7 separate regions of the Homo sapiens genome follow, and regions 1, 2, 4, 5, 6 and 7 are each reported to be linked to region 3. Evidence: microRNA targets listed by miRTarBase, many of them from high-throughput screens and not tested one by one. Region 3 holds a microRNA gene; each other region holds the end of a gene's coding sequence.
What was found. The annotated mature microRNA hsa-miR-30d-5p reads UGUAAACAUCCCCGACUGGAAG and lies in region 3 at 1,165-1,186, shown strand. An mRNA with a match to its seed (bases 2 to 7 or 8) in the 3' UTR can be bound and repressed. Matches are read on the target gene's strand: a 7mer-m8 pairs with bases 2 to 8, a 7mer-A1 pairs with bases 2 to 7 and ends in A, and an 8mer does both.

Region 1 (4,066 bases), not on the chromosome of region 3:
AAAAAATAAAAAATTAGCCAGACATGGTGGCACGCCCCTGTGGTCTCAGCTACTCGGGAGGCTGAGCTGGGAGGATCACTTGAGCCCATGAGGTTGAGGCTGCAGTGAGCTCTGATGCCACCACTGCACTCTAGCCTGGGGGACAGAGTGAGAGAGAAGTTTATTCCCCGGAGCACCCCATTGGGTCTCCCTTGTGGCCCGCCTCGCATCTTCTTAAACTCTGCATGGCATATGTCTTCTGTTCTTGCCTTAGGAGTTCTGTTTGCTCAGCCGCCGGCCCCCACGCCAACCTCTGCTCCCAACAAAGGAGGCGGCGGCGGCGGCGGCAGCAGCAGCAACGCAGGCGGCCGGGGAGGAAACACCGGAACCAGCGGCGGCCAGGCTGGGCCAGCGGGGCTGTCCACACCCTCCACATCTACCTCAAATAACTCGTTGCCTTAACCGCATCACTCCCCACCCGCCACCCACCCTGGAGCCCGCCGGCCTGGGCAGGGGGTCCAGGTGGGCCACACAGGGGCCAGGATGGCGGAAGATACGGGTGGGGAGGGAAGATATCCAGAAAGGAGCCACAGCTGACGCCAAAAAGAAAAGAAAAAAGATATATATATATATATATATATATACACGTATATATATAAAGAGAATTTAATAAAACAGGGGAAAACCAAGGAACACTTGAATTTCTCAGGTTTTGGACATTCAGAGAGATGAATTGTGAGAACAGCAAAGAAATCCATCAGAAAAACAGAAAGAGGCAGACGTTTCCCAGGGCGTTCAGGCAGCCCTGATGGACCGAAGGCTCTGGTGTCTGGTTTGGCCCCACAGCAGTGTGGGCCGATCCTGTTTACCTCATACATCCCTGCACTGTGTGTTTTCATTTTTGTCTGCTTTAGTTCTCTTTTATTTTCTATTCACCACACACTCACCACTCCCAGCTTCTCGTGTCCAGTGAAACCCCTGAACCAAGATCACTGAATTTTTGTTTTTTTCTTGTTGCTTTGGGAAATTTTTTTTTCTCTGTAGGGTTTTTAAGAGGTTTCGGGGGTTTTGTTGTGTAAATATTCTATTTTATTCTTGGGGGGATCAAACCTTAGGAAAAGGATATCTATATATCTATATAGCTATATATTTGTGTTCCTTCAGGGAAACTGGTCTTGAAAAAGCAAGAAAAAAAAGCAAAAAAAAAAAAAAAAAAAAAAAAAAAAAACTCACCTTTTTATTTTTCCCATGACCAATTTGGGTCCCTTTGTCCATTTCTGGGGGTGCGTTGGGCAGCTGTGAGCCCAGCACATCGGATCCCTGGGGCTAGAGCCGCGGAGCCAATGAACTCAGGTGCTATGGGCCGGGCTGGGGCAGAGGGTGCATGCTGGGGTCCCACCGGCCAGGGGCCCCTGACAGTGAATTGCTGACTGTGATATTCCACGATGCTTTTGCTTGTGCCGTGCTTGTCTGCTGGGCTCTCGAGTCAGGGGCCTGGAAATTTTTTTTTTTTTTTTTTTTTGAGACGGAGTTTTGCTCTTGTCGCCCAGGCTGGAGTGAGTGCAATGGTGCGATCTTGGCTCACTGCAACCTGCACCTCCCAGGTGCAAGCGATTCTCCTGCCTCAGCCTCCGGAGTAGCTGGGATTACAGGCGCCCGCCACCACGCCCAGTTAATTTTTGTATTTTTAGTAGAGATGGGGGTTTTGCCATGTTGGTCAGGCTGATCTCGAACTCCTGACCTCAGGTGATCTGCCCGCCTTGGCCTCCCAAAGTGCTGGGATTACAGGCATGAGCCGCCACGCTGGCCCGGTCTGGAAATCTTATCTAAAAAGTAGCAAGTGCTGGAAAAAGGGCCTGGGGGGCGGGGGTGGTTCTTGTCGAAGCCCCCAGGCTCCTGTCTCAGGGATGAATGTGGCGTCTCATTGGGATTCTTCTCTTGCCCGAAAGGGCTGCTTTTGAGGACTATCAATACTGGGGAGTGGGGGTGAAGCCGGACCTCACTCAGGGTGAGGATTTCAGGGCCCCGGCATCCTGAACACCCCCCACACCCCAACATTCTCCTCGCTCTGTCCCTTCCTCTTCTCCCAACCCCTTTTGTGCTGGGGCTGCGAGCTCCCCGAGTTCTGCGGTGACTAAATCGAGGCCGAGAAGGGAGGCTGCCCCCCACCACCCTGTGGGTCAGTACCCCTCCCCCTGGCTTGGAGAAAGTGGGGTCACCGCAGCTGAGCTGGGGGGTTATTTTGGCTGGAGCTGCTGGAGCAGAAAGGCTGGGTCTGAAATGCCCAGCAGGGTCTGGGGACTTCGTTGGACCCGCGTGGTGTTGGGCGGGGCTGTCGTGTCCTACACGGGAGCTCTGGGCTTTCATTTCTCTTGGGGTGCAGTGGGGATTAACTCAGCTATTCCCAGGGTAAGCCTGGGTCTCTAATTGGGCCCTGGGAGCCCTGTTAGGCCACCGGCATGGGGGCTTGGTGAGGAAGGGGACTCCCCAGCTCCCCCCACTCCCAACCACCTCCCCATTGCCTTGGAGACCCCTGGGGAGGGGGCTGGGGGGCTTCTGAGCCCCTGAGTCTAGGTTCACTTTCCCGTCGGGCTGTGGGAGGGGACTGTCACTTTCCTGTGTCTTTGGGGAGGGGACCCCCACTTCCTTCTCGGATCTCAGGGCCGTGGACACACACCCCCTTTCCAGGAGGGGGTGGTGGGCGTCTAGGTTTTCCTTGTCCCTTCCTGGGGCCAGCACCGTAGCAGCACAATCACCCCGGGAAGGGGGTGTCTGTTTGCCTCCAGACACAATCGGGCCCCACTCGCAGAACCACCTGGACTCTGTCCGTGTCTGTCCCCCGGCCTCCAGGGCTCCTCTCCCGGGACCCCCGTCCCACGCCTGGGCCCCGCGCCGGGGGAAGCGCCTGCTGCCTATCTCTGTCTACCTCAGGTCTGACTTTTGATGCCAAAATCTGAGCCCCTGGGGTGCCTCTCCCCCGCCTCCCGTGCACCAGGGTCTGCAGCAGCCACTGGGGCCTGGCTGCCTGCTGCATCTGGCGGCCCTGGACCCCTGGGGCCCCCGTGCACCTGCCCACCTCGGAGCCTGGGGAGGGGCCGTGCAGGGTCGAGGGCTGGGTCGTCTCCCTCGGGCTGCGTGTGTGTGTCGGGAATCCTGCGTGTCGTGTCTGTGGGCGATCCGGCCTCCCGGCGGTGGGTGGACCTGGATTCTAACTCAGAGGACTTGAGCCTGCTGTTAACTCCGATGATTGTAGGGACAGGCGGGGTGGGTGGGGGGTGGGCGCGAGGCTGGGTCCCGGCCCAGGAGAAGGAAGTCGCTGAAGGCAGTGGCCATGCTGGCCGTGGAAATGGGAGGCGGTTGCAGAGGGTCTATGGGGCCCGGTCCTGGATACTCGGCAGGAAGCCGTGTCTGCAGAGGCTCCTCCCTGCCTCAGGTGGCCCCGTTCAACCCCAGCCGTGCCCATCTCCTGCCACCGCCTGTCGGTGGGGGTTTAAATTCGGTGTGGCTTTCTGGGGTGCAGCTCAGCACCCCCCCTTATGCAGACTGGGAGGGGGTCGGGCAGTCCCCTCAGCCACGAGGACCCTGGATGGGTTCTAGTTCACTTGGGACCGTGGGGCCTGGCTGCGTACTGAGTGGGTGCCCCACAGTCAAGGCCAACGGGGGCTCCCCCTGCTCTGAGATGTTGGGAGAAAGGCGGCTTCTGGAACCTTCCGTGGGACCCGTAAGTGGCTGTCCAGAAAGGCGGGAGGGTGGGCACGGGGCACGGGGGGCAGCTGGGGTCGTTGTTAAGGGTCACGCATCTGTACAGTTGAATTTCCTTTCTCTTATCATGTTTTACCCACCTTGTCCCTTTTTTCCCCAATTGTGCTTTTGCATTTTTTTCCTTGGCAAATGTAAACTCAGCCTTTCATTCATGACGTGTGAAATTTCAGTTTCTCTGGAGTTTGTCAGACGGCGTGGGAACCACGCCTGAAACTCAGGTAATAGGAGGAAAAAAAAAAAAACTTAAAAAAATTTTTAAAAAACATAAAACTACTCTCTACCTCTGGCTGGGCCCAGCCTGTCTCGCCCTGGCCGCGGCAGGGTG
Region 2 (4,066 bases), not on the chromosome of region 3:
GGAGTCTCTAATTGACGTGACTGGTGTGCAGACTAGGAAAGTGTGCAGCCCCTAGTTTGGTGCTGATGGCATCGGTGAACAGACTCTTGACATTAGGATACATCCGACCGGCCTAGCTGCAGTTGCTGGGCCACTGACCCAATTCCCTTTGTCCAGTCTCTTGAACCCTCTGTTGTAGACTGGGTTTCTCTAGAAACAGACAATGAGACTGAGTTTGGGTTGCAAGATGTTTATTAGGAATAAGCACCTGTGAAAAGAAGAGGAAGAAGAGGAAGCAGGCCTGGGCATAGGAAGTCAAATTGTGCTGCAGGCCTGACGAAGCCCTGGCTGGCCTGGGCCTGCTGGGAGTACTGTCTGTCAGTGTCCGTCCCATGTTGGATTGAAATGACCAGGTGTTTATACCATGCCTCACTCAGACACCAGATACAGGCTGCCCCAGGAAGGGCGTGGTCTCAGGTGAAGTGGCTCTCTGCAGCTGCGGCCACCCTGATGGCACTTCCCATAGCTGGGGAAGTCCTCCCTTGAAGGGAGTTCTGGGGGCAGCTGTCCCTATCTTCCACACCTTCTCAACTCTACCTCCTCTTACTTCGCCAGCTTGCTTTCAACCAGAGAAGCTGAGAAGAAGCAGTCACTGTAATTTCCACACTCAGCCCTGGCTCCTACTGGGAAAACAGAGGCTTTGTCCCAGCTTAGGAATACACTGGATCTGACAGATGAGAATTAGGGGGAGGGGTGTCAGAGGGACAAAGGAGGGAAAAGCCTTGGACTCAGTTGTAAAACACCAGTCAGAACCTCAAAGACAAGAATCACTAGACTTCTGTTGCTCTTTGGTCATTCAGTTAATCTACTCTGCAGGCCAATGTGCGCCAGGCACTGGGACCAATCCCACCACTCCAGGCCCTCAGCTGGGGGCCTAACACAATCTGCAGATTCAAACAGGGAGGGAGAGGCAGCACCCCGAAGCCATGCTTCACCAGGAAGCAGAACCAAGCCCTGTCTCTGACCCTGGCTGCTTGCAGGCCCTCCTTTAAGTTGCTTTCCTGCCTGACCCCGTTTCCTCCTCTGACAATGGAGTAACACGATGGGCACCATGGTGAATGCTTCTCACCTCAAACTTCATTTCATCCTGTGAAGCAGCTATTATTATTATCCCCACGTTATACATATGGAAAGAGTCACACGGGTGCTCAGTGGTGGAGCTGGGCTTTGAGTCCAGACAGTGTGGCCCAATCTTGCTTCTTAGTCCTCATTAAAGGCACAGAAAGGCATGGCCAAGCCAGCCCCCTCGGACCAGACCTGCCTGCATACTTGTTTCATTTGGCCCACAGAAATTTTAAAATATGAGTCTCATTTTGAAATTAAGATGACTCAGAAACATCCATCCAGCTTTTCTTGAAAAATCTGGCCACCTGGCCACTGTGGACTGCATTCCCACAGGGTCACAACTGGCAGGAGGTAGGCCCCTTGAAGTGGGTCATGACACCACTGTCCACCCAGAGTCACTCGTCTATGTTACCTGCCTGGTCCCTACAGGGATGAGTTTGCTATTCTTCATGAAGGCCAGGGAGTCCTGACATAGAGGCCTAGACAGGCAAGGTGGCTTGCCCTGGGACACCCAGCTCGGGCCCAAATCACACGGACTTGAATCTGGCAAACTGTTTAGGGAGGGTTGAGGAAGAGCACAGACATGCAGAACCACAGGGCAAGGTCGGGGCAAATACACTTTATTCAGTCCTGGCATCAGACTGGCGGAGTCCTGCTGTGGGTGCCAGTGCCCCAGACAGAGGGACCCCACCCCTCAGCTACGAGACTAGTTCTCCAAGACCACAGACAGTGACATCTCTTCACTCACATGACGTTTTTTTTTTCATTGTCTTTTTTTGTTGTTGTTGTTTTTCTTAAAAAAAAAAAAAAAAAAAATAGAGCGCAAGAAAGGCCCAGAGCCGGAGCACCAAGCTTAAAGGAGGCAGCTGGTGGCTTTGTCAGCGACGGGAACGCGTGGGGCAGAGACCTGCAGAGACCCTGGGCAGGGGTCCGGAGGACTCTGGGACCGTTTGTTCCTGAGATTTGTGTGTGTGAATGAGAGTGTGTGAGCCACCCGGGAGGGTGAACACACGCCGGTGAGATACAGGTAGTGAGGGCAAGGGGGGTGTGGGGAGGCCGGAGGGGCGGGGCGGGGCAGAGAGATGGCGGCGTGAGAGGGGCCACAGCAACAGGGACAGGGCTCCCGAGGGCACCCTGAACTGGACACAACTTCCTCCTAACAGCAGCGTTCTCCCCATTTCTCACGTGGAAAAACCGAGGTGCAAACGGCCCATCACTACTCGGAATCCATTCTCAGTCTCACTGGCCAAGTCGATGGTCTCTCCCAAACCAGATGTTTAAAAGCGAGAGTCTTCCTGCCATCACATCTGCTCTCCACGCCTCAGTCCCAAACCCCTAGCACCAAAGTGCCTCAGTTTTTCCCGCTGTATACTGCAGCTTGAGTACTGAGGGTGGACCTGGGTGACAGGAAGGGCCGGTGCGCTCAGGGAGGAGCCCAGGTTGCGGGTGCCCTGAGGTGAGGGGGCACTTCCCAGGAGGGGGTGGGGAAGGTGCAGCAGGGATCCTGTCCCCAGACAGACTGGTAAGGTGCCTTGGTTTTTAGTTTTCTTGGGTGGTCCCTTCCTCTACTGCTGGATTTCCAGAGAAAGACCTTACCTCTCAATTCCCAGTTGGGGGGAAAAAGGGACGTATAGGTAGGCTGTAGAGGCAGCCACGCGACCGGAGAGGTGGTGCGCGTGGGTGTAGGAGACCCCATACCGGAAAAGGGGCTATGCCACTTGGGAGAGTTTCAGGCCCAAACCAACCCTTCCGAGTGCTCCTCCCATTAAGGCAGCGACGCCCCGTTGGCTGGAGAGGAAACCTAGGGCTCCCGGATCAAAGGATTTCCCAGGATCGCTCTACACTCGCCCCCGCTTTTGCCCGGAGCGGGCGAAGAGTGCGGCTCCGCTGGGACCAGCCCCCTCCTCCCCAGAAGCATTAAGCATGCGCACGAAGGGGGTGGGCCCCAGCGGAGGGGCGGGCCCTAGCGCTCCGGGGATAAAAGGGGTGCGCCCCTCCCCCCAGGGAAGGGAGGGGCGCAGGAGGCGCGTGCGTTGCCACCCGGCCGCATCGCCCCCCTAACCCAGAGAAGGCGGGCCGGGCGAGGGAGGAGAGATTCCGGAGCAAAGGAGGGGGCGGGTCCTCCGGCCACGAGGAGGGGCGTGTGCAAAAGGGGGGAGGGGTGCAGGTCTGTAGGAGAGGACGGGAGGTGTATCGGAGGGGGCTGGCTGCTGGTGGCTGTGCAGGAGGGGGCGACGTGGGGAGGGGCTTGGGTGTCGGGGAAGGGGTGGGGGTTGGGCTGCCTTGGGGTGTGTCTGCGGGGGAGGGGCATGTCTGGATCTGAGGGGGGATGGGCACGTCCAGGAGGGGGCAGGCTGCGCGGGAGATGGGGTGCCAGCCTCGGCCTCCGAGGGGCCCCAATACCTGATTCCTGTATGTAAACAGCTGGTTTGGGGGCGTGCGCGCCCCGCTGACGGTGGGCTCAGTAGGTGAAAACCAGGTCTGCGATGCTAGACGGGCGCCAGTCCCCCGCGATCATCTCGGTAACCTCGGGGGTGCAGTAGTCCGGGAACTCGAAGTGCGACGTGCCCGAGGGAGGCTGCAGGTCCGGGTCGCGATCCAGGGCGCTGCAGTCCAGGCCGGCCGGGCCAGGGGGCAGCCTGGACAGAAAGCCCAGCGACTCCTCCCCCGACGCCACCGTCTCCTCTTCACCTTCCTCAGCCGCTGCCGCCTCCTCCTCCTCTTCCTCCGGCTCCTCGTCCTCCGACGGTGTCGGGGAGGCGGCGGCGGCGGCGGCCGCCCCCTCGCCCGACGGCCCTTGGGCGCGCTCCGCTTGTCCCCGAGCGGCCCGTCCCGCCGGGACCATCCTCCACAGCTCCCGCCCCGGGGTCTCGACCAGGCGCACTTCCAGCAGCTCCTCGTCGTCGTCTTCATCGTCGTCCTCGGGCGCCGCCGCCCCGCCCCCCAAAGGCCCTCCCGCTGC
Region 3 (4,066 bases):
TGTTCATTTCTTAAATCATTTCATAAATCACTGTGACTTAATTGTGGACTTTAATTGTTTTCATAGTTTTTTTCCCCAAAAGAAGGTTACTTTACATATTTTATTTTATTTTTATTTTTATTTTTTTTGAGACAGGGTCTCACTCTGTCGCCCAGGCTGCAGTGCAGTGGCATGAGCTCAGCTCACTGCAGCCTCCACCTCCCAAGCTCAGGGATCCTCTTACCTCAGCCTCCCGAATAGCTGGGACCGCATGCACCACCACACCCAGCTAATATGTTGTATGTTTTTAGAGGTAGGGTTTTGCCACTTAGCCCAAGGCTGGTCTTGAACTCCGGGACTCAAGCGATCTACCCATCCACCTGCCTCGGCCTCCCAAAGTGCTGTGATTATAGACATGAGCCACTGTGCCTGGCAATTTTACATATTTTAAATTAAAGCAAATCTTGGTTTTTGATGGAATGCAGATTTACTTATATTTCACTTAGTCTTTTTCCTTTCTTTCAGAAAAGTGGTGTGGAAACAAAATGGTTTTAGTATATTGCCTTATAAACAAATTTAAGATCATGAGTTTCTTTTATTATCCTCTTTGTTTTGCTCATTTCCTTGAACTGTACATCCCTAACCTAAATCAGCTGGAGACAGGGGAAGAAAGTGTTAGATTCTTACTCAGTTTAGATCCTCTGCCAGGAAAACCCACTCTATTCATTGTCAACTAAATTAACGCTTTTTTAAATAAAAGGAGTCATTTTTAACAATAACGTCAGGGCAGCAGGCATCCATGAAATGTATGGTCACTGATCATTAGGGTTATCATTCTAATGTGTTTACTATTTTGAAACTCTAGGGAGAAGAAAACTTATTTTTGCATATGTTGGAAAAATGTATCCTCATGTAGGATATCAGGGTAATATCTTTAATGTTTCATACTTACCAAGATAAATTTGTAATGCGTATTTTCTTTTAAAATTAGATTTATTTAGGAGAAATTGCACTTGGTGAACCACTTTCTCTTTAATTATTAGCATTAACTTTATCATTTTTGTTTCAAGATGTCACAGCTATTGTTCAGCACTAGAAATTATATAAATTATTAGCTGAAGATGATGACTGGCAACATTTATGTCTGTTCCTCCTCTTAAATTTCTTGTTCAGAAAGTCTGTTGTTGTAAACATCCCCGACTGGAAGCTGTAAGACACAGCTAAGCTTTCAGTCAGATGTTTGCTGCTACCGGCTATTCACAGACATCCTCTTGATATAATTCTGTCCCGGAGTGGAGTTGAGGAGGCTATAAAATGTGTGGGAAAACCTCAGAAATCTTTAGCTGCATTCTTTTACTGCACTGACAGTGCACGTATTATGATAGTTGAATGTAGGGTGCTCTCCTAATAACAGGATATGCCGTCTCGAGCTTCCCAGACTTAGCGTGCTGCTGCTGGGCCTTAGAGAATTTAGTTAAATAAAAAGTGTCACCGCCTATTCCTGTTTCTGCCCTGTCAATGAAATTTTAGTCTTTATAACCTTTCCAAGTAGGCTGGAGTTTAACATCCCAACAATTCAGGAGACTGATTTTCTCCATTGTAAATTCTGTGGAAGTTCTGGAGAATAATTTCATCACTACCACCCAGCAGTATGCAATCTAGAAATTTCAGCTTTCCCTATACTTAAAAGAGATGTGTGTGCAACATTTTTCTCCGTCCTCTTAGCCCCCCACTTCCTGTTCCCCTCACCCTGAGTGATATTACAGCTCCTAATCAGAACTCTCCTCTAAGAAAAACTGCAAGACGTCAAGCCACTAAGCCTGTTTACATTTGCTAATGGGTATGCATGTCTTTTTATATTAATATTTTTCCTAAGTATTTTCAGATTGTTGCTTTCAGATTTATTGCTTCCTCCTTAAAATATAGCTGCCCTGAAAGCAGCTGTATTGTATCTATTTTTTGTGTTTCCCCACAGATCTGAATAATCCAGGGCTTTTCTCACAGATGACACTCAGTGTGGACTAATTGATAATGTATAATTTTATAGCAACTATTTTCTGAGTTTTAAAAAATTGTTATTTTATTTCTGTTAGTCTTTCAGACACTGGAAAACATTTCTATTTTATTGGCATTTTTCTTTTCAATAAAGCATTGGTTTTTTTAAATCATTTATTTTTATTAAACTGCTAAACATACTATGTTAGGTTCCATACATGATTAAACCACCAAAAGATAAAGGTCTTGCCAATCTAATGTATTTACATGCTTATTTTCTTTGATTAGATTATAAGCTTTCTGAGGTCAGAGACATTAAATCTTGATAATTCTATTTTTTCCTGTTATAAACAGCAAGTAAAGCACCTTGCATGTATAGTACTTTAGTAATGATTTTATATTATCTTATTGCAGCAGTGTCTACTGTTGCCTCTTATCTTTTATCCAGATGAGCAAATGACAGTTTTGGTCATAATGTAGTTACCCCAGATGTATTTGTGCTACAGCTTTTATTTTTTAAATGCTCTTTTGTTAGAGTAGTAGTTTATAAGACTTATTTGGGGATGGGGGTCAGTTGCTTCAGACTCAGGTGGCTTTCCAACTTGTAAATACAATTTTCAGGCTGGATGATTAGCATGCATCAAGCATCCCTTCCTATGAACTCTAAATAAAGCAGATTTATTGCATATTCTGTGGCCCTCTGTTTTAGCACATTGGAAACCTTAGACTCAAATAGCAGTGAAAGGATAGTTATTGCTGAGCTCAGAAGTCTTCCCTGCCAAAGGTAGAATGTAATGTGTTCTGTGGTAATAGGATTATTTTGTTTGACCAGGTGACACTGTTTATTTCTTATGAAAAATTTTGATATACTGCTTTAAAATTTAGTAAGATGGATGCATAATTTATGCAGTGAAATTTGAAAGGTTTTTCAAAATGATAAGGCCAAACCTAAGCTAAATGAGGGGGTAGGCATTCTTTATAATAAAGCTGTTATACTCTGCCCAGCTAGGCCAGTTATCCCTAGATGCTACAGATTAATGGGGCAATCTGTGTTATGTAACATTTGTTCTATATTATTCTGCCTCTAATGAGGTGAATCAAAGACGATGTCAGTTTTAATTCTGGATGCCCTTGCTTCAGTATAGTATAATACATAGGTACAGCCTTTTTTAGTAGTTTTCAGATGGCTTCTTTATGTTTTTATATTGAAGAACCACTAACTTCCCATTGGCCTATAAGGTTAGCAATTGATTATTTATAGCAAATGGCTTGAAATGTTAGATCATCAGTATTTGTCAATAAGCCTGTAATAACTTGTTTCCCTAGCCCTTAACTTAGTGTTGAAGAAAAAAATTGTGGTATTCATTGATAGGACTTAGAAAGCACAGAAATTACTTATTATTTAAGATTTGTTCTACCAATTGATATTTAAAGTAAAACATTTTTAGTTACTGAACACCATTCTGTAAATGACAGTATTTTATCCTGAGTATATGGTCTGAAATGACTTAGGGACAACTTTTTAAAGCAAATAACTAATTACAAAATTGGGTCTTCCAATTTATTTCAAATTAGATGCTTTTGTACAAATATTCTTGGTTAGAAATAGTCATATAAATACACTGTTGGACTTGTTCTCATTGATCTCCACACCTCAGTTCCTTCTACATGAGTCATGGGCTTGAGGTTACCCAGAAATGGACTGTGAACCTATAAACCCCAGCATGCATGTGGTATTGCGTCGAGCATGTTCTGTGATTCCCTTCTACTCTTGTTACAGCTTTATTCATTGGATCAATGTGCATTATTTGCTGTGTGTGCTCAGGTAATATTTTTGTTTCTTTTTTTTAGTTTGAATATCAGTTTGGGCTTAGTTACTTTTTAAAATAAGGCTGTTTCAGATAGTCTCTGCCACACTTTGCCTAGCCTGGTTAATTGTGGGTGGACCCATGCTACATGTTTTGGCATTGCCTTTTTCTTATCTGTACCATATTACAAACTTCCTAGTAATTTGACATTCACTGCTGTCTTTGCTTTAGCTTTCCAACAGGTTTGGTGAAACAGTCCATTGCTGTTCAATATCAGCTTGCAT
Region 4 (4,066 bases), not on the chromosome of region 3:
TCTTGATCTAGGTACGTTCCAGCAGAGCAAGGTGAAAAAGAGCTGAAAGTGGCATCAGAAGCCCAGAGTTCTGGTTCCAGCTCCGACCACTCATTCAGTGTGTGACCTCAGGCAGGTCACCAGCCTGAGCTGTGCCTTCATTTCATCTGTCAGACGGATGACTCTGCCCCTCAGAGCTTGCAGACGGCAAGGTGAGGAATGCGGCAGCTGGGAAAGTGACGTTGCTATCGGTCCCCCTTCCTCTTCAGTGAGTCTTGTCAGCAATTCTGGCCTGGTCTTTGGAGGGCGAGGAGCGCCTGTCCCACTTGCTCCTGACCCTTGGTCGTACCTCCAGGCCTTTGTCCAAGCTCTTCCCTCTGCCCCAAATAGCTGGTACATGTAACAACGCCTATTCATTTTTCCTTTTTTTTTTTTTTTATGAGACGTAGTCTCGCTCTGTCACCCAGGCTGGAGTGCAGTGGTGTGATCTCTGCTCGCTGCAACCTCCATCTCTCAGATTCTCCTGCCTCAGCCTCCTGAGTAGCTGGGGTTACAGGCACCCGCCACCGCACCCAGCTAATTTTTGTATTTTTAGTAGAGACTGGGTTTCACCACGTTGCCCAGGCTGGTCTCAAACTCCTGACCTCTAATGATCTGCCCGCCTCGGCCTCCCAAAGTGCTAGGATTACAGTCATGAGCCACCACTCCCAGCCTCCTATTCATTTTTCGAAGTCCAACCAACACCACCTCCTCCCTGAAGCCCCCTACTCCTCTTGATGTTCTCTCTGGGCTACCATCGGTGAGCTGGGACTCACTCATACCAGCCAGGAGGGCAGATTGTGCATATCTCTTCCCAACTCTGTGTTTAGACTCAAATCAGGAGCATGAAATTACACCATGGAAATAAGCAAATGCTACAAATCAGGCTTTATTGAGTGCCTACTATGTGCCAGGCTGGGACTAAAGGCAGTGAACAAAATAGAGTTGCTGGCCTGGTATAACTTGTGTTTTATCTTTATCTTTGTTTCCAGTATGCATTTATCTCTGTCTATCCAACCAATCATTCTTCCTTCAAGCTTTTTATTAAAGCCATTAAGAGTAATATCAAAGACTTTTGCACCAACTTAATACCATCTTCCTATCCACCCACACATCCATCCATCCTCCATCCACCCTCCTACCTACTAATCCCTCCTTTCAGGTGAGCCAGCTCTTGTCTCCAACTTTTATTTTTAAGAGACAGGGTCTTGATCTGTGACCCAGGCTGGAGTGCAACGGTGTAATCACAGCTCACTGCAGCCTCAAATTCCTGGGCTCCAGCGATCCTCCCACCTTAGCCTCCCGAGTAGCTGGGACTATAGGCAAGCACCACCACACCTGGCTAATTTTTTTAAAAAATAATAATTTTTGTAGAGATGGGGCCTTGCTATGTTGCCCAGGCTGGTCTCGAACTCCTGGCCTCAAGTGATCCACCTTCCTTGGCCTCCCAAAGTGCTGAGATCACAGGTGTGAGCCACTACGCCCGGCCCTCCAACTTTGCTCCTCTGTGTTTATAAGCTGAGTTCCCTTCAAAGGTGGGATTCTGAGGAGCCTCATCTGCCCCAGTCCAGAGTCCCCCAATCTGGCCTCAGGCCTTCCCCAACCATCTGTGTTCCCCTCCGCCACCCAGCAAGCTCTGGGTGCAGGAGAGCTGTGCTGCTTTCCTGGGAGCCTGTGGCTCAGGTGGCACCCACAGGTGGCTCCTGGAACCTGTTGCCCCCAAGAAGGTGTGAAAACCACAGCACATCTGGACCCAAGAGTCCCTAGGGTGCAGGTGCACGGGGTGTTGAGGGCTGCGCCTGCTCCGTGCAGAAGCTGTGTTTCCACTCTTGTGCTCCCATCCAAGTCTCACACCCCCCGATCCCAGGCTCACAGTCCCACTCTTATAACCATCAGTGTTCTAGAACCTTCCAGCCTCCTGCCAGGCACCGAGGACTCTCATGCATTCTCTCAGCTACCTCTCCCAACCACCCCACTTCACAGATGAGTCACGAAGGAACCTTCCGCAGGACTGACCTGTGCTGACTTCCAACCCGACCCTGTTGCAAAAGCATGGGTGAGCTAGAGCTGGCTCCTCCAGCACAGCCCTGCAGCCTGCAGTCTGACCTTTGGGGAGGAAGACGGGGCCGGGCCAGGGTGGCCCCAGCTCTACTAAAAATACAAAAATTAGCCAGGCGTGGTGGTGTGTGCCTGTAATTCCAGCTACTCTGGGGCTGACGCAGGAAATCGCTTGAACCCGGGAGACAGAGGTTGCAGAGAGCCGAGATCGCACCACTGCATTCCAGCCTGGGCGACGAGAGTGAGACTCTGTCTCAAAAGAAAAAAAAAAAAAAGAAAAAGAAAATGTTGCTAAGAAATATTTTCTTAGCTTCTTAATTCACATTTCAACAGGTTCTCTGACAAATCATTGACAAACAACTTGACCTCCCTTCAATTCTCCAGGATGAACAAATAAGACAGGATTTATTGGCAGGATTGAATTGGGGCAGGGTAGGGGGCCCAGCAGGATGTGTGGCCGGAGCACACTGCATAGTTCCAACCTGCAGCCCCCTCCATGAGTGCCACGGGGGGTGGGTCCCATGAGCCATGGCCTGCTACGTAATTGGTGTTTAATAAATATCTCTTGGGTGCATAAAGGGAATTTTTAAAAACTTAGTAGCAGAAGTTAGAAAAAGAAATCTTGGTTGGTGGGGAGCTGTTTCCAAGAGACGAAACGGACTGATTTTAAGCCTGGAAACCCCCCCGAGTGGCCCTCTGCAGGCGGGACGGCCCCGCGGGTGCCCAGGCTGTCGCTGACGATTGATGTTCTCACCCCCGCCCGCCTCGGCTCTGGCCGCAGAAGGAAGGAAGCTGACGTTTATTGAGGGTCTGCTCTGGGCTGCGTACCGTACACGGGTGACATCGCCAATTTCCCCCAGGTGTGTCATGCCTTCCCCACTGTCTGGATAAGGAAACTCTAGCCCAGAGAGGGGAGGCGACTTGGCTCAGGTAGCACAGCCAGAAGGTATCAGAGTCGGGATTCAGACCTTCGTCCAGGGGCCGCCCAAAAAATTGCCATTCCCGAGGTCACCATGGGCTCACTCCATCCCCTTTCGCTTCCTGTTGGCAGGTGATAAGGAACAATATGGACTTCTTGCAGCTCCTGGAGGCAGACGCTGGAGGGCTGGGCTCCGCCTCAGTCACAGGCAATGCCCTGATCCCACAAAGCCCCGGAGATGCTGTGGACCAACTTGCAACACAAGACCCTAGGAGGGAGGACGGCTGTTGTCATCTGTTGACCACAAACACGTTTACTGTGCACACTTGTGCACATGGGTGAGCTCCGTGAGTCCAGACATGCACAGGGCAGGTGAATGCATGGAGTACCATGGGCATTATCCCAGGCCCACAGGCACGTGCAATCACACACACACGTGGACATGCCACTGCGCACCTAAGACACACACACACACACACATGCATATGCACACACACACATATGCACACACACACACAGACACTGTAAACATCAGGCTCAAAGGCCCATCCAGGAGACCAAAGGCTGCAGGTGTCTTCACATCACAGCCCAGGTGACCTTGTCTCTGGCTCAGGGCCCAGTGGCCTGGCCAGCTCTGGACATCCAGTCAGCCTCATTAGCTGGCCTGGGGTCCAGGGCTCGAAAGTGGCGGAGGAATGACCACCCACTGGCGGAGGTAGCTCCGGGGGGGTCCTTCGTCCCCGGGGCTGGTGAAGTCACACTCCACAGGGCTGCTGCAGTCAGAGCCCACAAAGCCACTGTCAAACGTGTCCATATCCAGGCCGGCCAGGGGTGAGCCCGCCTCACTCTCTGAGACCCCTCCAGGTGACCGGCCACCCCAGGGCAGTCCCCCAGCCCAGTCCTCCCCATCTGCAAGGGGTGGCTTTAGTCTGTCCAGGAGGCTTCCCAGGGGCCCTCCTAGCCCAGGGCTGCCAGCTGAGACACAGCCACAGGACAGGACTGTGGTCCCTGCATCCAAGAGTGGGTCCTCTAGGCCTGGGCTGGGCTCCAGGCCAGCATCCAGGTCCAGGG
Region 5 (4,066 bases), not on the chromosome of region 3:
AAATGCAGAATCTCAGACCCCAACCTGGACAGGCTCACTCAGAATCTGTGAGATCACCAGTTAATTTATTTGCATGGTAATGTTAAATAGCTCTGATCTCAACACAAATGCCTCAGGGGCCAAGTAGGTCATGTCAGTAGTGAAAGTAGCCTGGTTTCCCCCGTAAAGAAAGTAGAACAATAAGAAGGCATTGTGGTGTGAAGTTTTAGTATTCTTGATTTGTTTTTAAAAATCCTGTATTATACCAGTGGGGGTTAACACATTCAACCAAATTCATCAACTAAGGTTAACTGCAGTTGACATCAATTACTTTAAGCAGATTTTTAAACACAGAATTTTAATAGTGACCCTCATATTAACTTCTTCTGATCTCTTTTAGGAATTTATCAAAGAGCTGCTTTCTCGGATAAGAGGCATGAGGAAACTGAGCCCTCCGCAGAAGAAGAGTGTATGATTCTGGAACAGGGTGAAACTCTCCCAGAGACGAAGAAAGAGTCCTGGGATTTGTACTTCATGAAGACTTTTGTGAAAGAATAGGTGTCCTTATGAACAACGTTTTTGTTTTTTTTTTTTTCTTTTTTGGTGTGAAGGTGGGGGGGTCTATTAGACATTTATTCAAGAGCGTTCTTTTTTTGGTTTTAAAGGTTTTTGTTAATGTAATATTTTAATAGCAAAGATATCATGACTCTAGCCACAGCCTAACCAAGGATTATCAAAGGAGGTGGACACTCAAGGAAGGGCCACGCCAGGCTGCGTTTCCTGCAAGGACTCAGATGTTCAGTACCTTATGATACAGGGAAGATAGTTTTCTTACAAGTAGTTTGGTAATATTTTTTTTCTTAAGTTGTACATTTGACTCAGCTGTCAAATTTCTCACACTTGTATATATCTACACACAACTAAGTTAAAATGTTGATGTGAGTTTTATTTCACATGGATGGAATAAACTTGTGGTTGTCCTTTAACTGGAGGTCCCAGCACATGTGTTTTCAAGAGGCCACTAGGCATTCTTCACTGAGTGCTGCTGACTTCAACGTTCACTTTATGCACCAAAGTGAAAGAATTCAGTGTATCCGTTATTTTAATGCACTACACCACAGAAATGTTAAGTTGGTCAAGGGCTTAATTTATGGAATTTCTATTATTTCATTGGTTGGGATGCTTTGCCAGGTCATGTGCTTATTGTCTCATTTTGTAGTCTTTTAAAGTTGTATGAACCCTTAATTTGAAGAACTAACTTGATTTCTAGAGAAATATCCACACTATCTCAGTGGTATTTTGCATTGGAAAAAGGAAGCACTGTGTAGCAGTGAATTGTCTGCTTTCCACCGAGTACTGTGTTTATTCTCTCTCCAGGAAAGCAGATCAAAAGAAAGTTAGCAGATCGAGTGTCTTCTTCCTTAGAAATAGGTTCTGGTAGCTTCTGTGCCTGGGTAGTATCAGACCAGTGGGAGTAAACCGAGTGTTAAGTGTCAAGGTGAGAAAGCCTCACATTCTCTCAAGACAGTTGCTCTAGGAGCTGAGTTGCTGGTTTGGAAGTGTGGAGATTGCATTTCTGGCTTCTCTCAATGGCTTGTGTTGAGGACTCTGGGTGCTCCTGGCCCTAATTGTGCACCCTGATCCCCGTGCTTGGAGCTAGGCCTGGTGGCGTGCTCTAGCCCTCTCAGTTACCAGCTCTTTGGAGAAGGATCAAAATTCAGATGGAATGTGGGATGGGTAATAGGTGAGAGTAGAAACCCTTCCCTCCAGGAGGCCCCCGCTGACTCCCACAGAAACCCACCTACCATAAGATGTCTTCAGGTGGCCTTGTCCAAGGATGGGGGTCAGGCATTTTATATCAAGGGTGCTCTGAACATATTTTATTTTTTAAAAAAACTATGTTTGTGAATTTTGCGTATACTGGCAAGCTTTTGAAAATGTATTTAATTTTGTATTGTTTACCAATGATTTATTTACAAGATATTTACTCAAATAAATGGAGCTGCTTACAAGCCTGTTGACATGTGTGGCTTGCACAACACGTTAACATGATGGTTTTGCTGTGTCAGTTTCTCTGCAGAGGTGAGGACCAAGCACCTCACCTCGTTTCATTTCATTTTCAAGGATTTCTAGGCATGTAATCCTGGCCCTCTCCTCAGGCATCTTCAGATCAGGTGGTGAAAGCAAAGGAGCTGGGCCACATTCTTGGGCTGAGAAAGAAGACGAGCTCTGTGTGCTCAGCCTGGCACTGTCCTAGGCCATGCTCCTTTCATTTAATTAAAACTCCTCTTTGCCATCTTACAAGAACCCTCAAAAACATTTCAAATTAGTAAACTATTCCACTTGTTAGAATGCCTTGCACCATGGAAGTCGGAAAAATACAGAATGGGCAGGATTTCTGTTAGGCTTAATTGACCAGCCCATGTGATGGTCTCAGATGAAGTAAGAATTGACTTTTCCTCCAAAGGCCTCTGCTCCCACCACACACTTCCTCCCCACCTTCCCTCCTGCCCTGATCCCCGTGAGTGCTTCAGCAAGAAGTTTGGGCCTCTTCCTTGACTCCCCAGTATGCTCCCAGTCACCCAGCTTGTCCTCTGTGAATACTTCTCAAACCTATCCCATGTCCAACTTTCCTGGATTGCTGCCACCACCTTGGGAACAGATTCTCCATGTCCAGGCTTGTCTCCCTCTGATCCATCCTCCACCCAGTTGCTAGAATAGTCTGACGACTCCACCCCCTGCTTGAAACCCGAACCCTCTGCATGCCTTATGAGAAATGTTGTCTCTGCCTCTCCCACCTCATCTTTTGGCCTTGTGCTCATGCCCAGTTCTGCCAAATTCCTTGGAGTTTCTGGCGTGTTCTATGTATTTTCTTCTCTGGTGCTTTGTAAAATCTGTTGCCTTGGCCCAGAACGCCCCCTCTGCCAACAGGCTGTATCCAGAGAGCTGGGTTAGACCCCCTCCTAGGTGTGTTCCCCCTCAGCTCCAGCCTATACTCTGTCATAGACGCATCCACAGTATCATTATTGCCTATCCATTTGTTGGTGTCTTCTGTTAGAATCTGGGATCCTCGAGGCTGGGAATCTGGACTTCACCAAGCATCTGGTCCTAGGCTTGGCCCATCAAAGAGATTGTGTGTTTGCCAGTTGAATGAAAATGACAAAAGATTCAAGAAAACTCCACTGTTTTCTTCCCAGCTAGAGTTGTGGTTCTTAGATCTGAGTGTACATTTGAATCACTGGGAAGCTTTAAAAACAATGGAAGCCTAGGCCTCAGTCAATTCTGACCAGTTAAATCAGCGTCTCCAGGACAAGAGCTGGGGTGTTTGTTTTCAAGCTCTCCAGCTTGCGCATCGCTGGGCCATTGGGTCACTCTTGTGCCATTGGATGGCCAGATGCATTAGCCTGACCTCAGCTCTCCATGTTTATGCTATTACAGCAGGTGGCAGCTGTGGTATTAGCACACTCACTATTTCTCATACAGAGTCTTCTCACTAGGGCAATGGCTCCAAATTATCCAACTTCTAGTGCCGCGCTCACTTGAACATTGGGAAATCTCAATGTAAACTTCATGGAGTGGCTTCCATTTATAACGATCATAATAAAAGCACTGTGCTAAGTGCATGCTTTATCTCATTTAATCCTGACCTTAACCTTATGAGGCAGGTGGCATTCTCATTTTACAGATAAGAAAATAAACTCAGGCTTAGCAGCTTACCTAAGTCCACACAGCTACAACACTGAGATTCAAACCCAAACCTATTTGGCTCCAAAGTCCCATAACCATTAGACTTTCTTGCCACTCTTAGGGAATTACTCTTAGTCCCACTCACAAGAGTGAACCCCAGAAGCCACATTTAAAGTGAGCCAGGTCCCTGAGCTGGCAGGGTAGGGGAGGAGGCCTTGTGGATGGAGGAGATCCCAGCCACCTGTGGGGCTCTTCCTCACTCCTGGGAACTGAGGGACTCCCTGCTCCCCATCTGCAGTGCAGCCAGGCCCTGTGATGCTGGCCCTCCTTATCCAGAGTCCTCTTGCCTTTTCCCCATAACATAAAGCTCCTGGACTTGGGCTTAGCAGCTGAGCAAGGA
Region 6 (4,066 bases), not on the chromosome of region 3:
TAGCTCCCCCGACCCCACCCCGCCTCACCTTCACCAAGGCCTATGGCAGCAAAACTTACTGTGTTTCAGGCTTTTCATCTTATAAAAGCTGTGTCAGTGTTGCTGAACTTTTCCCAAGAGGAGGAGAACATGCTCAAGGAAACTCTGGAATATAAGGTAGGGTTCTCTGGTCTACTGTTCCAGCTTCCAAGATACGTTGTCAGTTATCCCAGCAGTAGCAGTGTAAGACCCCTTAGACCCACACCCGAGTGTAGGCACCAGCACAGCTGCATGATCAGCTTGGCTGCTTTTGGATGAACTTGATCCAAGCACTTTTTAGCGATGACATCCTTTGTGCCCAAATGTCTGTGCTGTACTTGACCAACAGGCCACGTATTTTTCAAAGCATTTTCATTGATAGCGCTTTATCGAGAGCCCCAGGTCTGGCTCGGCACTCAAATTCCAAAAGCGTCTGCATAAATGCTCTAATAGGAAAAAATACCTGCAGTTCCACTACCTTGTTCCTGTCAACTCAGTGTTTTTCTCTCATTTCCCTCCTGTACTGAGCACGGGCCTGCAGACTGGTTACTGGCACCATCTTCTTGCTCTGCTCAGAGCCAGAGGCAGGATGTGTGGGGGGCAGGAGTGACAGGCTCACGGGAGGGGAGGGGCGGTTCAGTTTCCCTGGCACCAAGTCCTGATTTGCATCTCAGAAGCCTTTTCTGTTTCAAATGCAGATGTCATGGTTTGGGTCCAAACCAGCTCCCAAGGGCAGCATCCGGCCGTCTATCTCAAACCCTCGGATACCATGGTCCTAGAGGGGACTACCCAAGGATGGAGCTCCGTGGGTTGACACTTTTTCTGTGAAAAGAACACTGACACACCAGTCTGGGTGGGTTTTTAATCACTGTAACTGCAGTATTTTGTACAAGTGTCTAAACATTGTTTACAAGACTAAGGCCCACTTCCCTGCAGGCTGACCTGAACCTCAGGGGGTAGCTGATCCTGTCATTCTGGTCACCAAACAGGAGGGTCCTGGCACTACCCAGATTTCCACAGTGCTGCTAATATCCCAGCTCCAGCCAGCACCCCATCTGCACCTGAATCCTCTAACTTCACGGTAGCACTTACAGCTGAAGCCATCAGCATCTGGCAGGCACACCTGAGTCACCATGTAGCGCTGCTACTGGAGGTAGAGACGGCCCTTTGAGATGGTGCCCAGCAGGCCAAACCCACCTGCCTCTGCCAGGAACAGCCAACTCCATGGGAACTCTATGGGAGTGGCTTTTAAAAATTCAGATGAGTTAGAAGCTTTTTATCCCTTCCTCTCAAGAAAATATTCTTTCACCCTGTCTCTCAAACCACCTAGAACTTTAGAGGATCCATCTTTAAGGGTCGGTGTGGATGAATGAGAAAATGCACCTTTCTGACAGTATCTCCACTTTACTTAAGAAAACTAGCAAATATATGAAAAGACCCTTAGTACCAAATACACTCAATTGCCTTTTTAATGAATGTACTTGTCTTGGATAGGTTGCTGGTAAACCATTTTAAACTATTTTTTATAGCTGAAGTTCTTCACTACTATAAACATGTCTTCTGTACTATAAAATCCATTTAACTGGTGTTCTTAAAATCAGAGCGTCCAGAGGAAATTCTTCCTAAAACTAGGATTCCTGTTCCTTTGTCTTCTCACTCGCACTCTGGCACTGCTCCCTCTGAAGTGCAGTGGGATCTCGTGTGCTTTGTCTTGATTCTGTGCTGCGCTGCCGCTGGGCGATGCAGACCACCTGTCTTCTACTGAAGGACAGTCCGCTGTCTCCAGTGGGGGCAGCAGCTGTCCCCCAGCCTCGATGGAGACACTGGGGCAGTCTGCCTTGTCTGTGGAGCTGCTCTCTCTCCCTCATCCCACCCCAAATACTTAAAATGACACTACACCCAGACGGCGCCCAGCTGGCTGCAGCACTTGTAGCATGCACATGACTCTGGTAGTAACCAACAAAAACTTGTTTTATGGATTCCTCGTTTACTGAGGAAAGGGAACATGCTGGTTCTGGAAAAGCCACAATATTGAATCTAAAAGGAAACCGTTTATTGTTTGATGAAAGTTTCACTGGTTAAATAAAAAACTAAATTAATAACTGGAGCCTCTAAATTTATTATCCATTATCCAGTGATGGAAAGTTGTATTTCTCAATCATGCTTAGGGCCAAAATAGGTATATAAAATGTGTCACAGAAAAACACGCATTTGCAACGTTAACCTAACGAAATTTCCATGAAGAACCAAGTCAGGGCAGCATCTCCTTAGTCCCAGCTCAGGCTCTCTGCCTTCCAGAGGCCGCTTCTCCAGTGACTAACCTCCTCCTCTGGCTCCTCCTTGCAGACAGTTATCCCTTGTTTAGAACACGAATTTCCATTTACCTGGTGGGAACACGAAACAGGAGTCTCTTCTGTTCTGCAAGTTTGATGGGTAAGAGGTAGCCTTTTTTCAAAGTAGGATTTCCTTTTTCAACTGTTCCAGGAAAGAATCTCTAAGACTGGGTAGCTCACAGCCAGCCAAAGGCAGCTACATTTCCACAGAAGCCCATCCGCTGCCTCCGTGGCTTCTCCAGCCATTGAACTGGTCCCACACGCACCCCAGGCCCCACTCCTCGGCAGTTTCAGGTGTAGCTGTGGGGCCCGTTCCTAGGTCTGTACTCACTTTAGGGAGGCTTCACTGACTAGGCTTTCCTCCTGCATGTTGAATTTCCTTCAGCTTTAAGAGGAAGAGTGGAATAAATATTCTAAGTGATTTAATGCACTTTGACTTGTATAAAACTTTCTGTGTTAGCGACGGTATCTATAGCCCTTTATACGAGCGATGGATCTTGAGCTCTCCTTCCATGTTGTAAATAGGGATTGTATTCTTGAAAACTGCTGTAGCAAATTCATCTGTGGTGCAATACACTTTTTGATTAAAGCTCTTCAATCCAGATGCAACTACAATGGATTTTACTAGTTTGGTGTGTCAGTATTTCTTTGACTCATTAAATCTGGTATTTTGTGTCTCATATTTAACACTCCAAGGCCAACCTCAAGGGCTAGAGAATGTTTGTCTTTCTTTCAGAAAGAACCTTCCCAGACTGGATTTGGGTGAATAAATATACGTAATTTAATGAAGCCAACAGCCCCATTCTACCCCCCCCAAGAATTGCAGTGGTTCTGAAGAGGGACTGAGGAGGGGAGAGCTGTGGAGGGGAGGACTGTGTCACTTTGGTCAAAGTCTGTATCCAAAGGCTGTATGACCCAGAGGAGCTTCTGGAGTGTGAATGGGGCCCTAACCTTTAACAGAATGCAAGCTGCAGTCACATGTGCTGAAAAGGAAAGAAAAGCATTTTTGCCCTTCAGAGAAGCTCTGTTATTGGTTATGGGGAACCAAATTATACCATCTATTTGCTGATTGATTGCTCCCCATTTCTGACGTTTAGTTCTTTAAAGAAAGCTTGTCCATGCAGCAGTGATTCTGCAGCACAGCCAACCCAGCATCAGGAGACGTGACCAGGCACATCTGAGGCCCCACCCTCAAAAGATTCCAAGTGCAATCCCACAAACTGAAGACTTTTAAAGCCTAGATCAATTATTAAATGTTTGGCACTTTATTAAATTAATTAAATAAGCTCCAAAATTAATTACATACAAATCAAAGGAATAAGAAACAATAAATAGTTTATTCAGCAAACACCTCTCTGCAGCAGCCGGCAGCTCTGAGGCCGAGGCTGGCGTCCTGTGGCAGAGGGCCTGTGGATTGCCATGCTCGCTCCCAGGGGTGGCTCAACAGGGACACAGGTCTACTCCTTCCACATCGGGTTTCCGGAACAACAACTGAACTCTCATTCATTACCATCCCATTCATTACCATTTTTTTTTACATACACGAAACACACCGCAATGTATAGACTAATAAGCCAAGAGCTTTATTGATGCAGCAGGCACTTTACAATGAGCCCAAGAGTGTCCACCTTCTCTGGGAAGACAGGATGTCTGTACAAACTCTTGGGTTTTTTTCCACTTCAAAAACACAAGCTCTCCCGTTTACCACAGCCCTT
Region 7 (4,056 bases), not on the chromosome of region 3:
CACACCTAGCTCTTTTGTTTTAAATGGCTTTATGTATTCTTTAATTGGGCTGTATGACTTAAAAGAAACTGCAGGGGAAAAACTCGGAAAAGAAGCAAGGTCCTTGTATGAGCGTGGCATGGAATCTCTTAAAGCCATGCTGCCCTTGTATGACACTGGCTCAGGAACCATCTATGACCTCCGTCACTTCATGCTTGGCATCGCTCCTAACCTGGCTCGCTGGGACTATCATACCACCCACATCAATCAGTTGCAGCTACTCAGTACCATTGATGAGTCCCCAGTCTTCAAAGAATTTGTCAAGAGGTGGAAAAGCTACCTTAAAGGCAGCAGGGCAAAGCACAACTAGAGCTCACAACCAAAACTGCACTTCAGCCTCTGCTGTACACAGAAACTACAGGCTCTGTCTCAGGAGAGCATAGGCACATTTTAAAAGGTTATGTACTAGGTTTTTGTGGATTCTATCAAAGTGATAAGTGATCCTTAAAACCAGCCTTCTAAAATAATTGCATTCCATGGGTTGGGTATTTAGAAATGTAGGTGGCATTTAGAACACAATGTTTAATCAATGGGCTGAACAAAGATGCTTCACTTTGCCTTGCCCATCACCCTATACAGTTTCGCAGATAGTCTAGTCACTCTATGTGAGAAAGATAATGGTAAGTAGTTGCTACTGGCCAACTGTCTAGCACTTACCTGAAAACTTAGTATGGAGCTCTTTTAAAATGTGATTATTTATATTTATGTTGAAAGCGGACTTTAAAAAAAATAATGTGCTGTAACACAGTAAATATGTACTTGTAGCCTGGATAGCAGACTGTGTTCAACTTTTTAAAAAGATGTTTCCTTTCTAAAGATTAATTTCTTGGGAGCAAATGAGTATTTGTTGCATTTGTTCAATTTGTTGTATATGGTGAATATTTAATTATGGTTTTCTTGAAACGTGTAAATTAAAAACACAATCAGTGTTCAGGCTTCAGTTATATAATGTAAGCACAACTAAAATGAAACTTGTTGACTGCACAAGAAATTACAAAAATGTTTCTGTTTTGAAACTTGATCTACAATCAGTAAAAGTTTGATAATCAGTATATCCCTTCCCAACCCCCATTGTGACAGTTTCTTTTTGTCACTGTCTAGAATTTTGTATTTTATTTCAGACTATACCTTGGAGTTTTGTATATTTTGAGAGAGATATTTTTGGGACATTATTTTGGAAACTTATTACAAATCTAAATTTGGAAAGGAGCTAGTAGCTTTAAGGCCACCACCATATTTTACTTTTTTAGGATTTTTCCCCCTTTAAATAAAAATATTAGATCAAATACTATATGCAAGAAATCATAGCAAAGTTTTTTTTTCCTACCAAGATCATTCTTGATCATCAGCTTCCCAAACTAGTAAGTCTGTGCATCATTGGGTGTTTTTTTTTAATTTAATTTTAAATTATCCCAGCTATTAGATAGAAGGGATGTTACTGCACTTATGTGTAATCAGATCTTTATTTAGGTATACATATCCTCCTATACCGCACATAAATAGATTTCAGAGCCCCCATACAATGGGCAGTGTCTGCTATAGGGCTTCAGGCATTAAATAAAACCGAGGGTTGTTGATTTTGCTGTGACAGTACACTAAATCAATACTATATCTTATACAGTTTGAAAATATGATACCCTACACTTTCAGGGGACCGAGTCTGACAAACACAATACATTTATCTGTGACCTATATCAAGTACACATTTAGGAGCCAGGTAGGTTACCTGCTTACACACTATATTTTAATTGAATTCAAACTATCAAGCACTACTTAGAAACTGGAAAACATATATATGTTAGCATCAAAGGGGGCAGAAGCAAAGAAGATACAGATCTGCACTGAAGACATTAGACTGGCCATAGAAAAGTAAGCTTGAACTCCCAATTGATGTGACCACACTCTTCTTAATTTTGTTCACAGTAAAAACACTTTTTTGAGTTATTAGGCTTACCCCTAGCTTTTGACCTTTGCATTTCATATATGTTAGATGTCTCAGCAAGAATATCTGGTCTCCCCTAATTTTTATTCCCAGTGCCGATGTTCAAAATAAACTTTCTCCAGTCTGGGAACCTTTTTTACTTCCCCATATTTGTTATTATTTAGAATGGTTCATACGTCTGCTTTGTTTGCATACTGGTCTTCAGATTATGAGACTCGATGATAACAGTATGGTACTGCTTCTGTGACAAATATCGTGCCTTAACAATGTGGCTGTCCTTTTCCACTGAAGAAGGAAAGACGTTTTGATCTAGAAATAGCGTTGTGATTTCCTTGCTGTTGGTTTTACACTGCCTTCCACATTGCAACAGCAAGTTGATTTCTTGTGATCCCAGAATTTTCTAAGAGGATGAGTTGAATCTATAGCAGCATTGTCAGTACAGACCAGTGGTTCTCAAACTTTAAAATGCCTCAGCATCACTTGGGAGCTTATTGAAATGCAGATCCCAGAGTCAGTAAATCTGCCTGTGAAGTATGATAGTCTGCATTTGTAATGAGCATTCAAGTGATTCTGATGCAGGTGAGCTGGGGGCATACAGGGAGGAACACTGCCCTGGACTATCCATTGCATTTTTGCCTCTAAACAACTACAGAATTTTCTAGGGTTTTAAATTATGTAAAATGTTTACTTATTCTGAGCTTAGAGAGAATGGGGAGGGTATTTTTAAATTTTATTGTTTTATTTCTTTAAGTTTTTCTTTGCTTTAAGATTATAGGTATTAGGTTTGTTTTTGTTTTTCCACTTATCTTGAGTTCACTTTGATGTTAAATCTATTGCTACTTCAGTTGTAAAACCAGCCAAAAGTTTCTGGATGAAGGTCAAGTTTGACCTTTTAGGAGTTATTGTACATAAAGGCTTCATCCACGAACCATCCAGCGCACAGAAGCAAGTGCAAAAATGACACAAGCACAACTCTCCAGACGTGGCTCCTTCTCCTTTCTCAGTGCAGACTCTCACTGAAAGCTGCTATTTTCATCCTCCTTGTGGTTGCTTTTCTTGTTTCTCTTCCATTGTACATGTGGGTTATATACCATATGTTAAATATGCAATAAAGTGTTTACAGGATGCCCTTCTGAAGGGTAGTCCTTTGTAAAGCTGTACAGACTTTGCAGTTTAAGCACAATGTGCACATGTTAGTTTTATATACAGCAAAACTTGATTTTTTGCAGATGGAAAGGTATTTTGTTTCTATACAAAGTAAATGGATTGTTTGTGCTTAATGTAAAGCCGCTTTATAAAACTGTAAAATAAAGTTTTTTTCTTAAAAAGAATATACCTGGATATTTCTCTTTCTTCTCAAATTATTCTAAGGTTATTTGAGCCCAGCAAGCAGATTTCTGACCATTTCCTGTTCAACCCGTGACCAGAAGTCAGGCAACAAATGTTGTTCATCAAAGGCATACCAAGCCCTGTCAGACAATGTGTGGGAACAAAGAGTATGCATGGGCTTTAATCCTAAGGACCCTTAGTCTTCAAGGGGGAGCACAATGTATACTAAAAACTCGAAGAAAAATAAAATGCTAAATTGTGTACTCAGGGAAGGTGTTAGGGAAGAGACAGAGCCTAAGCTGGTGTTCCAGGGGTGGAGTCCAGGTGGAAGAAGAGGAGGGAGTAACCTGAGCAAAAACAGGTGTCCATGCCAGGTGAGAGGATGGCCTTTCCCATGCTCATTCAGACTGGGTAACCATTTTTTATTTAGATTTATTTGAGAGTTTGTCCCTCATATATTTTCTCTACTTGCCTCTTCAGAACAATTAGCATTATTTAATGTTTACCCCCTTCTCAAAGAATAATGATTTAACCTCCCAAACAGACAAAACCAGAGACCAGAGTCTTGCTTCATGTTATGTTTCATTGCACAGTATTTTTTGGATTATAAACATTCTGCACCATTTGTGTAATGGAATTACAATTGATCACGAATCAACTTTTTCCAGCTGATGGGTGCACAGATTTTGACAGGCTACTAATCAACATTCTTGGCAGCTTTTCCTTCCCCACCGTCTTCAGTTGGG

Region 1: miRTarBase lists ARID3A as a target of hsa-miR-30d-5p. Seed matches in the 3' UTR shown: 7mer-m8 at 842-848.
Region 2: miRTarBase lists SOX12 as a target of hsa-miR-30d-5p. Seed matches in the 3' UTR shown: 8mer at 3,520-3,527.
Region 4: miRTarBase lists IL21R as a target of hsa-miR-30d-5p. Seed matches in the 3' UTR shown: 8mer at 3,519-3,526.
Region 5: the mRNA of PPP1R14C is a reported target of hsa-miR-30d-5p. Seed matches in the 3' UTR shown: 7mer-m8 at 1,935-1,941.
Region 6: miRTarBase lists GOLGA1 as a target of hsa-miR-30d-5p. Seed matches in the 3' UTR shown: 8mer at 923-930.
Region 7: the mRNA of GLCE is a reported target of hsa-miR-30d-5p. Seed matches in the 3' UTR shown: 7mer-m8 at 2,663-2,669 and 8mer at 3,096-3,103.

The regions. Positions count from the first base shown.
Region 1 is chr19:971,625-975,690 of GRCh38, forward strand. It overlaps ARID3A (AT-rich interaction domain 3A), which reads left to right. Exons shown (of 9, transcript NM_005224.3): 9 at 254-4,066. The coding sequence ends at 441. Among named protein-coding and RNA genes, the nearest start is that of WDR18, 11 kb to the right of the region's middle.
Region 2 is chr20:326,372-330,437 of GRCh38, reverse strand. SOX12 (SRY-box transcription factor 12) reads right to left here. Exons shown (of 1, transcript NM_006943.4): 1 at 214-4,066. The coding sequence ends at 3,566. Among named protein-coding and RNA genes, the nearest start is that of SOX12, 2.9 kb to the right of the region's middle. RefSeq lists silencers at 2,997-3,286, 3,327-3,396, 3,757-4,066.
Region 3 is chr8:134,802,039-134,806,104 of GRCh38, reverse strand. It overlaps MIR30D (microRNA 30d), which reads left to right and starts at 1,160; the gene lies at 1,160-1,229. It also overlaps a transcript of ZFAT not described here.
Region 4 is chr16:27,448,868-27,452,933 of GRCh38, reverse strand. IL21R (interleukin 21 receptor) reads right to left here. Exons shown (of 9, transcript NM_181078.3): 9 at 892-4,066. The coding sequence ends at 3,651. IL21R-AS1 (IL21R antisense RNA 1) reads left to right here. Exons shown (of 3, transcript NR_037158.1): 2 at 12-191; 3 at 3,128-4,066. Among named protein-coding and RNA genes, the nearest start is that of IL21R-AS1, 2.5 kb to the left of the region's middle. RefSeq lists enhancers at 34-133, 2,169-2,318, 2,659-2,708, 2,729-2,888, 2,549-3,426 and 1 more.
Region 5 is chr6:150,248,367-150,252,432 of GRCh38, forward strand. It overlaps PPP1R14C (protein phosphatase 1 regulatory inhibitor subunit 14C), which reads left to right. Exons shown (of 4, transcript NM_030949.3): 4 at 380-2,026. The coding sequence ends at 454. Among named protein-coding and RNA genes, the nearest start is that of PPP1R14C, 110 kb to the left of the region's middle.
Region 6 is chr9:124,877,261-124,881,326 of GRCh38, reverse strand. It overlaps GOLGA1 (golgin A1), which reads left to right. Exons shown (of 23, transcript NM_002077.4): 22 at 70-156; 23 at 717-3,052. The coding sequence ends at 797. It overlaps ARPC5L (actin related protein 2/3 complex subunit 5 like), which reads right to left. Exons shown (of 6, transcript NM_030978.3): 6 at 3,594-4,066. Among named protein-coding and RNA genes, the nearest start is that of ARPC5L, 17 kb to the right of the region's middle. RefSeq lists an enhancer at 1-543.
Region 7 is chr15:69,268,896-69,272,951 of GRCh38, forward strand. It overlaps GLCE (glucuronic acid epimerase), which reads left to right. Exons shown (of 5, transcript NM_015554.3): 5 at 1-3,312. The coding sequence ends at 349. Among named protein-coding and RNA genes, the nearest start is that of PAQR5-DT, 28 kb to the right of the region's middle. RefSeq lists an enhancer at 3,212-3,769.